Homo sapiens: one gene and its partners. The protein of the gene in region 3 interacts with the protein of the main gene of each other region in a pairwise test. Each region holds a gene or a part of one and is shown on either strand. Other genes may lie near its edges.

Region 1 (3,638 bases), on a different chromosome or scaffold from region 3:
CTTCCTTTTTTTTTTTTTGGGGACGGAGTCTTGCTCTGTGGCCCATCGCCCAGGCTGGAGTGCAGTGGCGCGATCATAGCTCACCACAACCTCCGCCTCCCAGGTTCAAATGACTCCTCTGCCTCAGCCTCCCAAGCAGCTGGGACCACAGGTGCACACCATCACGCCGGCTAATTTTTGTATTTTAGTAGAAACGGGGTTTCACCATATTGGCCAGGCTGGTCTCAAACTCCTGACCTCGTGATCCGCCCACCTCAGCCTCCCAAAGTGCTGGGATTACAGGCGTGAGCCACCGCGCCTGCCATGTGCCTGCATTTTTCTAGGGGGAGAATCTCACTTGATGTCACCTGATATACAGAGGGGCCCATTGGAACCCGCATTGCACAACATCCTGGAGTCTGGCTACTCCACGCTTTGGGAGCAGGGAGGGCTGTTGGCAGAGACCATCTGTGGACTAGCTGGGGGACCCTTGTGAGGTAGCAGTGGATGATGGCTCTCGGGCTGACTTCTTTGCCCAGGAAGAAGGTGTGCAGCGGGCCCGGGAGGAGGAGGAGAAGCGCAAGGAGGTGACCTCGCACTTCCAGGTGACACTGAATGACATTCAGCTGCAGATGGAACAGCACAATGAGCGCAACTCCAAGCTGCGCCAAGAGAACATGGAGCTGGCTGAGAGGCTCAAGAAGCTGATTGAGCAGTATGAGCTGCGCGAGGAGGTAAGGGTATCACGGACAGCAGTCATGGCCCAGAAATTGTGAGGTTTTGAGTGTGTGCTAGGCACTGGGACAGTACCTTTTCAGGCTTCATCCCATTCTCCCTTTCTTCCTCCTCCTCCTCCTTGGGAGGAGAGTAATGTTATTCCTCATAGATAAAAAACAGGTGTGGAGAAGAGACTCACTTACAGCCACACAGCCCCAGGTCCACAGTGCCTTGTCCCAAATGACTGGGCCAGGCATCTTTTGGAATTAGAACTATCCACATTTTAGAATGGAGGTACATGTATGGACTGTGTGTTATATAGCACCCTCAGCAGGGCCTTGGGGAAGCCAGACACATTAATGTATTTATGCAGTAGAACTTCCAAATACTCACCTACATTATGGGCTTACAATGATGCAGGTCAAGTCTGGCTGCCAGCTTATGACAATTTCCATTTTCAGAACTTTGTAGAATTTGGAATTGCAGGGGAGGGGTGTACCTGTGATCAGTGATGGACTCCAGAGACTGTGTCCACTGATTCCTTGCTGCTCCTGCCACTCAAAAGGCAGAATTTATCAGGCTGGGCGTGGTGGCTCATGCCTGTAATCCCAACACTTTGGGAGGCCAAAGCGGGCGGATCACCTGAGGTCAGGAGTTCAAGACCAGCCTGGCCAACATGGTGAAACCCTGTCTCTACTAAAAATACAAAAAATTAGCCAGGTGTGGTGGTGCACGGCTGTAGTCCCAGCTACTCAGGAGGCTGAGGCAGGAGAATTGCTTGAACCCAGGAGGCAGAGGTTGCAATGAGCCAAGATTGTGCTACTGCACTCTAGCCTGGGTGATATACCGAGACTCCATCTCAAAAAAAAAAAAAAAAAAAAGCAGGATGTCACTCCCTTTGTCACTGCGTTGGCTGCCACCCCAGGCACTTGAATCTTTGGATCTTCCCTGCCAGTCACCTGGCTGTTCTGGGCGCGTTCTCATCATGAGAAGGGAGACCTGCAGCCCCCTTACAGGGCTGGCAGAGGACCTGCTCTGGATTAGGCCCTTTCCTAGCCCCTGGGGTGTGGCAGTGGGTGAGACCGGGAAGATCTGCCCTCTTAGGTTCATAGGCCAAAGTGATGATCGTGTGTGCAGGACCTAGAGGGCGCTCCCCTGACCCACCCCTTTCCTTGCCATACTTCATCCTCTGGGAACAAAGCTGCTTGTTTGGTTTGAGGGGAGTTGGTTTGGTTCTTATCCCTCAGCGCTGAGACATAGAGGCTTCCTGGGCCACTACAGTGAGACACGAACTTCAAGAATCTGAATACCCCCGTTTTCTCTCCCCGCCAAGGCAAAAAAGGACTTAGTACTACCTGTGGAGAAGGAGGTGCAGGACTACCAGGCCCTGCTGCTTTGCATTTACAGCCCTCCCCAGACAGACACAGGCACCCTCATCATACCCAAACTGGACTTACCTGCTAGGCACCTTCCCTTCCCCATCCAAAAAAATGGAGTTATTTTCCCTTATTTCAGCAAGTCCAGTTGATTTTACCTTTGAAGTAGCACCTGAGTCCTTCACCTTCTCTCCATCCCTTCTCTCTCACCTGACACAGGTCTGCAGCGCTCCTCTAGTAGGCAGGACAGCCATTCCTTGGGGATGCACATGTCTAGTCTTTGCCTAGATATGGCAAGTCTTTGCCAACTGAGCTAGGCTGTTATGTTCTTAGAGGCATTGTTTTTGCCCATTCTTCCCATTTACAAGAGAATCAGGGACACAGAAGTGAGGGCTTCCAGCCCCATAGGTGATCAATCCTGGGGTCAGAGATTTGAGTGTGTTTATTGCTTGCCTTCTTGGGAGCAGATTCCATCCATAAACCATGTGCTTACCAAGGTCTGACTCACTGGGAGAGAAACGACGTGAGGTTGGAAAGCTGACCTTCCAGAGACTTGGGGCCCATGTTGTGTGGTACACATGGGAGTCCATCATATCAGATTGAGATGGGGGGCTGGGCAAAGTGCCCTGGTCTGTGGCTGTGGGGCTACCCTGAGAAAGGGAGCGCCTGACAAGCCGACTGCTCCCACCATCTTTGTTGCAGCATATCGACAAAGTCTTCAAACACAAGGACCTACAACAGCAGCTGGTGGATGCCAAGCTCCAGCAGGCCCAGGAGATGCTAAAGGAGGCAGAAGAGCGGCACCAGCGGGAGAAGGATTTTGTGAGGCTCAGGCCCCAGGGTTGGGGTGGGGGTGGGAGGAGACAGGCTGGGCTCTGGCTCAGCTCATAGCCGGGTTATATGGGAGAAGTCTGGCCAGACCAGGCACAGATTCCTTGAGTACCAGTCTGAGAGCAGGAAGCCTCAGTGGGTCTGGTGCTTGTGGCTAAAAACCAAACATAGCCCCTGGGGGCTTCTGACAGGATCTGGGGTTCTGTCTTGGAAATAGCTCCTGAAAGAGGCAGTAGAGTCCCAGAGGATGTGTGAGCTGATGAAGCAGCAAGAGACCCACCTGAAGCAACAGGTGAGAGCATATAACCTGACCCTGTGCCTTCAAGTTTCCCTCACTGGGCCCCATCCTGGGGGTAGTGAAATGGGACCCTCATTCTAGGACTGGCTGTGTCCTGGCTGCTATGACGCCTTGGTTGAGCCTTTGTTCTCTCCGGACCTGCACAGTACCTATGTGGTGGTGACCAGGTAGTTAGGTGGGCTCAGAGGACTTCATTTGTAGCTCAGAAATGTATTGCTTTTGAGGAGGTAGGAACAGAAGAGTTTGAAAATCAACATAAAGGCAAAATAAAAGTCACCCTAAGTCTCCTACTTTCCAGGCTTAGCATTTTGGATTATATCCTTCCAAATATATAGCTTTGCTTTGTTTTAAGGAAAAATAGTATCTCAATAGAATTACTGGTCAGAGAGTCAAGGACGGGTCTGAGTGTGTTGACCAGAGTGCCTCCCAGAGAAACC
Region 2 (3,656 bases), on a different chromosome or scaffold from region 3:
GCTAAATTGGAAGTTCTGTTTCTTTATTCATTATTCTATGGAGAAGAGCCTTCTCAGGTATTTGGCATCTGGAAGAAAAAAATATGCAGACTCAGGGAAAGAAGAAGGATATATGGAAGTAATGATGTCTTCAGAAAATCTTGTTCCTTTTGTAAAAGTTCCTATTAGTGTGAGCATTCATTCATTCATTTAACAAATATTTATTGAGTGGGTCAGGCATAATACTAGATATTGGGGATGGGAGACAGCTGTTAATTAAATAATCCCATGAGTAATAATAAAATAACAACTGTGATAAGTACTATAACTGAAAGTATAGGGTATGATGATAGCATATAAATGGAGAACATAATCTAGACTGGGGGAGGGGTGTTCTCTGAAGAAGTCACATTAAAAATTGAGAATTGAAGGATAAGTAACTTATCCAAGTGAACTGGGTGAGTGGGGATATGAAGGAGGTAGCCTGGAGAAGAATGTTCTAGGAATAGAAAAGAGTATCTGGAAAAGTCCTGAGATGGAAAGTTAGCTGCTATGTTAAACAGAGAAAAGGCCAATAAAGCTGGAACATGCTAAGCAAGATGATATTGATGAGGTGGATATGGGCTCACTGTAACCTCATACTCTTGGGCTCAAGAGATCTTCCCACCTCAGCCTCCTGAGTATCTGGGACTAGTTTGCCACACATGGCTAATTATTTTATTTTTGGAGAGACTGGGTCTCACTATGTTGCCCAGTCTTGAACTCCTGTTCCAAGCAATCCTCCCAGCTTGGCCTCTATAAGTGTTGGAATTACAGGTATGAGCCACTGTGCCCAGCCAAGACTATCTTAAGGTGCAATAATAATTATGGACCATGGGATCCAAGCTAGATAAGAGAGGACATGAAGGTAGAAGTTCCTGAATAGAAATGGAGGGATCGGTGAATAGGAGGTTTCAATGAGATCCAATAATTGTTGCAATAGGAGTATCTGAGTGAGCCTGGTGCATAAAAAGTTATTTTGGAGATGATACAATTGCTGGGGGTGATAAAATCCTAGGTGAGACTATAGGAATGAATCAATAAATGTGGAAATCACTAGAAATGAGGAGAATGAGGAACTGAGAAGCCAGGATGTCAAATAGTTTAACTGTGAGGATGTTGAGGTAACCCAAGGAAAAAGCTGCAAGTGTAACAGTGGCATTCCCCCAGTTCTGATTTCTAGGTAAGGACAGTTCTTCCAGCCTCCCAATACCCCCAGTCTAACAGTACCACTTGGCAGCTTTTGGATTACCAATCTAGGAGGGTATTATCTTTCATTCTAGAATGTTTGACTAACTCCACAGTCTTATTTAATATGGCATTGGTTACCATCTCAGTACTGCAATAGGAAACTGGAGGTCACTTTTGCCTATTTCATCCTGAACTATTAAATTAGTTGGAAAAGGAGTAAGTCTCCCAAAGGACTCATTTTAGTATGACTGAATTTGATATTCAGTAGCCATTTGTATGCATTTTTCTGTGATGGTATTTACCAAGTGTGTGAGTGTTGGTGGTGTGGGCCCCCATCCCCAAGCACTAGTCTCTGCAATAACCATGGTGATAATCATGGAGGTTTCCAGGAAAACAAGCTACATCTGCAGCAACATGTGTCCATGGAGTTTCTAAAGCTGCATCAGTTCCTGCACAGCAAAGAAAAGGACATTTTAACTGAGCTCCGGGAAGAGGGGAAAGCCTTGAATGAGGAGATGGAGTTGAATCTGAGCCAGCTTCAGGAGCAATGTCTCTTAGCCAAGGATATGTTGGTGAGCATTCAGGCAAAGACGGAACAACAGAACTCCTTCGACTTTCTCAAAGTGAGAATCCACACCAATATGATTATGGGTACCTTCCTACCTAGAGGGGGGAAGAGGTTTGGAAAGAATGCGGAAGTGGCTTTTCACATCCAGGGAAAACAAAACAAAACAAAACAAAACTGTTATAGTGCTTTTAAGATTCTCTGGAAGAAAAGGAGGAGGCTGCTTCAGCTATACGCACAGCAGAAAGCTTTACTTTCATCCTCTTAGGAAATACGATTTTTAAATTCCATTAATAATAGTATATAGTAATGGTTTAATATTTTTCCATAAAGAGCTTGATGCTTTATTTCTCAAAAATAAAAATGTTGCAGCCTGAGTTGTATCTTTGGCTCTCAGCAATCATAAGCTGACCTGTCTGAAAAGCTGTTTTCTAACCTTTGCTTTCTTAAGCTTCACCTCTAAAGAAGCGTTGGTTACCATCTCAGCACTCAGAAGTTTAATTAGCTAGAGTAAGGAAAAGTGGCCTTGGGACTGGGATACCTAATGTGTTTTTCTTCTGAGACTATTTGAAAGTATAGGTAAAGATAGCTTAACCTTAAGTATTGTCTTATTGGCTTCTGTCTTGCTCCCTGTAGAAGAGAACTCTAGAAAGAGCAAAAGATCAATTTAACCTGGGTTAGGATCAGGGATGAAGATTAGAAAAAGTGTATGAAGGATGAAAGAAGTTGGTAGAGATGAGTTCGGGACCATCTGCACAAATTCTGGTGGTGGCTGGTATCACCAAAGAAATTTTGAGAGTTGATGAACGGGCATCTGATGTCTCTCTTTCTCCTTTCTTCTAGGACATCACAACTCTCTTACATAGGTAAGTGTTTCCCTATGGTACTATTAATATCATTCCTTGAGTCTCTGGAGGATGTCTAAGGATAAATGATTTATGTGCCCTGCAGCTTGGAGCAAGGAATGAAGGTGCTGGCAACCAGAGAGCTTATTTCCAGAAAGCTGAACCTGGGCCAGTACAAAGGTCCTATCCAGTACATGGTATGGAGGGAAATGCAGGACACTCTCTGCCCAGGTATCAGTGGGTAGTAACTATTGGTTCTTGAGGCTCCTAATCTACGTTTAATCTGTGGGACTTCTTCTGTGGCCCTAATTAAGTTTTTACAGTCTGGGATAGGGAAGGGGTACAGTTTGGCCAAAAGGAGGCTAGTTGGTATGACTGAATTTCTTCTAGTACCATGACCTAAGAATTTATGACTTTGTGCTGGTAAATAGATATGAGTTTGATATCAGGATTACTTCTTAGCATATGATTTTGACTGATTTATGAAATGTGGCAACAGCCAAAATTTTATCTTGTTTTGCTAAATCAGCTATATGAATCCCAGGGGCTTCTCTGAAGAAGGAGGAGGTTTCTGAACATACTCTTTTTATGTACACTGGGTCTTTACAGTTTCTTTTGTGCTTGATGTTCATAGCGTAGAACATTTTAGAAGATTGTTTAGATCTTCAGTGCTTCAGAAGAAAACCAATAATTTAAATAAACATACCTAAGAAGGACACTAAGTTTTTGTGTTCCTGTAGATACCAAAGGACTGAGCAAGATAAAATAACACACATGGCATTTCAAGAACATCAAATAAAGTTCTAAATAAAAATCTTTATAGAAATAAAATTCTAAATAGAGTTTTTATAGAATTCATAGACTCATCATTATTATTATTGTTTATGGTTATTGATTTAATGAGAAATCACAAATATATCCCTGATTTAATGAAAAATCGCAAATTTTTCCAGGTAATTGACATTGAAGAAAAATCAACTATACTGAGATATAGTTAACATAGAGTAAAATTATCCAATTTTAAGGGCACAATTTGA
Region 3 (3,656 bases):
CCTCAAGTCCCACCCGTAGGTGCCCACTGCCCTGTGGCCCTTTGAATGGTGTCAGGAGACAGTGAGGCCGCCCCATTTGCACTAGGCTCACAGACAGCCAAGCAAAGAGTGGATGGGCAACGGTTCCGGAGTGGGGGCTGTTTCGGTCACCTTCTAGTTTGGTGGCGGGCACGGGGGTGGGCAAAGGAATGAGTGGGGCATGGGGAGGCTTCGCTGTGGAGACAAGGCCCTGGACTTGGAGAAGAGGAGCTGAACTCTTCCTCCTTTATCAAATGGACATGCCCATTTATAAAATGGGTGTGTCATGTGCCCTGCCAATCTCAAGGTCAGAAAAGCTCAGGGAGGTGAAATTTCTTCACAGCCATAACATGGCATTATTCAGCAGCTGGAGTGGCCGAGGGGACTGAAGATGGCTTCTCCACCCTCCTGCTGCCTCTCCTGCATCTCTGGTCAGCGTGCACCACCTTAGGGCCTCCGCGCTTGCTGTCCACTGTGTTTCAGGCCCTCTTCCCTTGGCTCTACCTGTGTGGGTTATTCATTCCTTCAGGACTCTGCCCAGGGATCACGTCCCCACGAAGGCCTCCCTTGACCCTGTCACTCTCCACCTCCTTATTTTTATTGACCTTGCACGCCACGACGTGTCATTATATACCGATCCGCTTGTGGACCTCTTGCAGGTCTTCCTCCTAGAACGTAAGCTCCCATCTTGTCTTGCTGTTGAGTCTCTAGTGCTGAGAGTGCCTGGTGCACGTGGGTTCTCGGTCAGCATCTGCTGAGTGAGAGGAAGTGGGCAGTCCTGGCCATACCCAAGTCTCTTTCAGGTCCTCGTCCCAGTGTGGTATATAGACACGGCTTCCCCACTGGACCCAGGGAAGGAGCTGCAGGAGTCCACCCAGTCAGGGAGGCTTGCTGCCGACCATGACGACGGTGATGACAGGAGCGGACACCCCGAGAGCTGACCCGTGCCAGGCCCTGTTCTCAGTGCTTTACGTTGCTCATCCAACTTCATCTTCAGCAACAGCCTGTGCCACTCGGATTGGCGTTACCTGTGCTTCTCGGGTGACGGAACTGAGGTAGAGCTAAGTCAGCTGTCCAGAGCTGCGCAGGGAGTGCTGAAGCTATTGATCAACCTTTGGTCAAGTGCTTGCTGCTCCGGGGTGGGAAAGTCAAGGCCTTGGAGAAAGAACCTCAAGGAATGGTCTCCATCTCTCCCGGCTGCTCGTCGCCTCCTTCCTGGGACATGGCCTGCAGCAAGGGCTCTGGATGCTCCCTTATTCCCGACCTGCTTGTGTCTCTAGGCTCCCAGGCCTGGTTCCTCCTTGTTTCAAACAAGAGCTCTCCAGCCAAGAAACCTCCCCAAGGGCCCTGGCTGTTTCCCAGCACCTGCTGGCCCCCACTTCCCAAGGACCTCCCGGTGCCCTTTGTCATCATAGAATTATCTGGGGTATTTCTGGCCTTACACTTTAACCCAACCTCCTGTTTAAACACATGACAGCTTCCATTCTTGTTGCCACTGGAGCGCCTGTCCCAGCAGGCCACGGAGTCTCGTTTCTGCGGGAAGGAATGTGCTTCCCTTTCCCTCTGGACAGCCTGAGCCGGTGGCCAGGATTCTGAGGCAATGGAGGCATCTGCTACCAGAAGCTTCCACCAGCTGCTGTACTGTCCTGACTGGAGTCCCAGGAGAGCCTTGCCCCAGCACCCACATCCAGAGTGGGGCAGTGCGAGCTCTGTGCAAAGTGGGATGTGACTGGTGAGGAGTGACTGCCCTGAGGCTGCTTCTCAGGACACTGGGTACACGTCCTCTGAGCGCAGCAACTTCAGAGCCCTTGGGGGGCTGAGAGAGGAGGGTGCCCACCTCTGCCCCACCTGCTCAAGCGAGTGGTGCGGGTGGAAAGTCACCTACCCAGGTCTGCGTCGGTGCTCTTCTTCATGTCTTTCTGCAGCCTCCGGGTCTGCTCTTCCAGCCTGCAAGGCAGGGGACGGGCTGCTTGGGGTCCCCTTCCTTCCCCCTACCTGAGCGAAGCCCAGGTGCTCTGGAGGGCCTGCCAAGGAGGAGGAGAAAGGGATCTTCTCCACGGGGACTTTTCCCGCTGACTGAAGTGCCACTACACCCAAAGGCTATGAGTGAATGACTCTCACATGGCCATTGCCAGGGAACAGTTCCAGCAGCCTGGTGACCTGAGCTGCCCTCAGCTTCCAGGGTGCTCACGGGGCAGGGCACGGGGCAGACAGGTGAGACCTGGCAGGGGGCCCTTGTCCCTCCCTGCCTCCCACCTCATCTTTCTGGGGTTGACACTCACTGCTGAAGTTTTCCATACTCCCTTTCAAAGTCTCTCTCCACCTGAAACGAGAGAGATAACTCAATTATCGGAGAAATGACAACACGGTGGAAAAAACCTCCCAGCCTCCTGAAACTCTCTCCACACCCTGCCCCAGTCCGCAGAAAACAACATGGTCCAGTTCACACAAGCACCGACAGATCGCTCCTGACACGGTATTTCTGAGATCCCAAGTTAATTAAGTGTTTGAATTACGGAGGAAGGCTCCCCTCCCAGAGGGTCCAGCCAGGCAGGTGCCAGCGGACTGTGGCTCTGCTCTTCCCAGCTGGGAGCAAGGCACTCGCTGCATGCCCTCCTCACCCCAGGCTGGAGGCAGTCAGGGTGCTCAGAACGTGACTGGACCCCATCCAGGAAGGCAGCAGAGTGCAGAGGAGAGGGCGGGTCTGGAATTGGGGGTCTGTCTCTGCCTTTTCCTAGTTTCCAGGTCCATGCAGGGCACCTCCCCTCCTACGCGGCCCTCCACTCAGGGCCACCTGCCCCTGCTGGGCTCAGGGTGGGTCAGGAACAATCGTGCACCTGTGCTTTGTGATTGGGATGCATCAAACACAGACACTGTGACTACTGACTCAGGTCAGGCTCTCTCCATTCCCGACCGGGTATCAACTCTCTTGAGAGCCAGCAACACTGAAACCAAATGGGTGAGTCCTGAACCCGGGGCTGCACTTGTTGCGGAAGATGAAGTTAAGAAGTCTAGTACTTTCTTCTGGTGCCTTGACTTCACTATCTGTAAAACGGAGCCTCATGATTGGTCTCTTATGGGCATGCAATGGGAAGTAAATGACATCGAGAGGCAAAGGAGACTAAGCTAGAGGCCTGCCCTCCCTGGCCAGAGCTGCAGCCGTCAGGTGCCAGCTTCGGGCTTCGTGCTCTGAGAAGTCAAAACCGCTAACTCACATTCACAGAGCCCTCACTGTGTGCTTTACAAGAATGCAGTTCTCTACACTCATCTCCAAGGCAGGTCACCGGGAACCAGGTTACGTACCCTGGCCAAGGTCACCCCATTGGTGAGGGGTAGAGTTGAGCACAGTGGGAATGGAACCCAGGCAGCCTGGCTCCACAGCCTGTGTTCGTAACCATCATTCTCCTGGAAGGCATTTGCTGACCCAAGAAAGAAGTCTTCCTGGCTGCTCCCTGGGAATCCTGTCCCCAAGAGCCCTAGATCCTGACTTCTGCTCTGAGGGTCAGGGAGTACACATCTGCAGAAACTGTCAAAGCCACGCTATTCCTACCACTGTCTTCCAGCAACGCTGACCTGATGAGAGAATTCTAAGCCCCTTAACCTTAGCACTCCACGTTTGGATTTAGATTAATTCAACA

Evidence for each region.
Region 1: the proteins of BIN3 (region 3) and TXLNA interact in binary tests that used the Homo sapiens proteins (3 or more experiments, as listed by UniProt).
Region 2: the proteins of BIN3 (region 3) and TRIM69 interact in binary tests that used the Homo sapiens proteins (3 or more experiments, as listed by UniProt).

Annotation. Positions count from the first base shown.
Region 1 is NC_000001.11:32,189,537-32,193,174, forward strand, and holds part of TXLNA (alpha-taxilin), read left to right. Parts: intron 1-518; coding exon 519-713; intron 714-2,774; coding exon 2,775-2,894; intron 2,895-3,120; coding exon 3,121-3,195; intron 3,196-3,638. UniProt on the Homo sapiens protein: May be involved in intracellular vesicle traffic and potentially in calcium-dependent exocytosis in neuroendocrine cells.
Region 2 is NC_000015.10:44,757,023-44,760,678, forward strand, and holds part of TRIM69 (E3 ubiquitin-protein ligase TRIM69), read left to right. Parts: intron 1-1,590; exon of another isoform or gene 1,591-1,598; coding exon 1,599-1,832; intron 1,833-2,617; coding exon 2,618-2,640; intron 2,641-2,725; coding exon 2,726-2,850; intron 2,851-3,656.
Region 3 is NC_000008.11:22,634,622-22,638,277, forward strand, and holds part of BIN3 (bridging integrator 3), read right to left. Parts: intron 2,342-3,656; coding exon 2,301-2,341; intron 1,966-2,300; coding exon 1,904-1,965; intron 1,892-1,903; exon of another isoform or gene 1-1,891. UniProt on the Homo sapiens protein: Involved in cytokinesis and septation where it has a role in the localization of F-actin.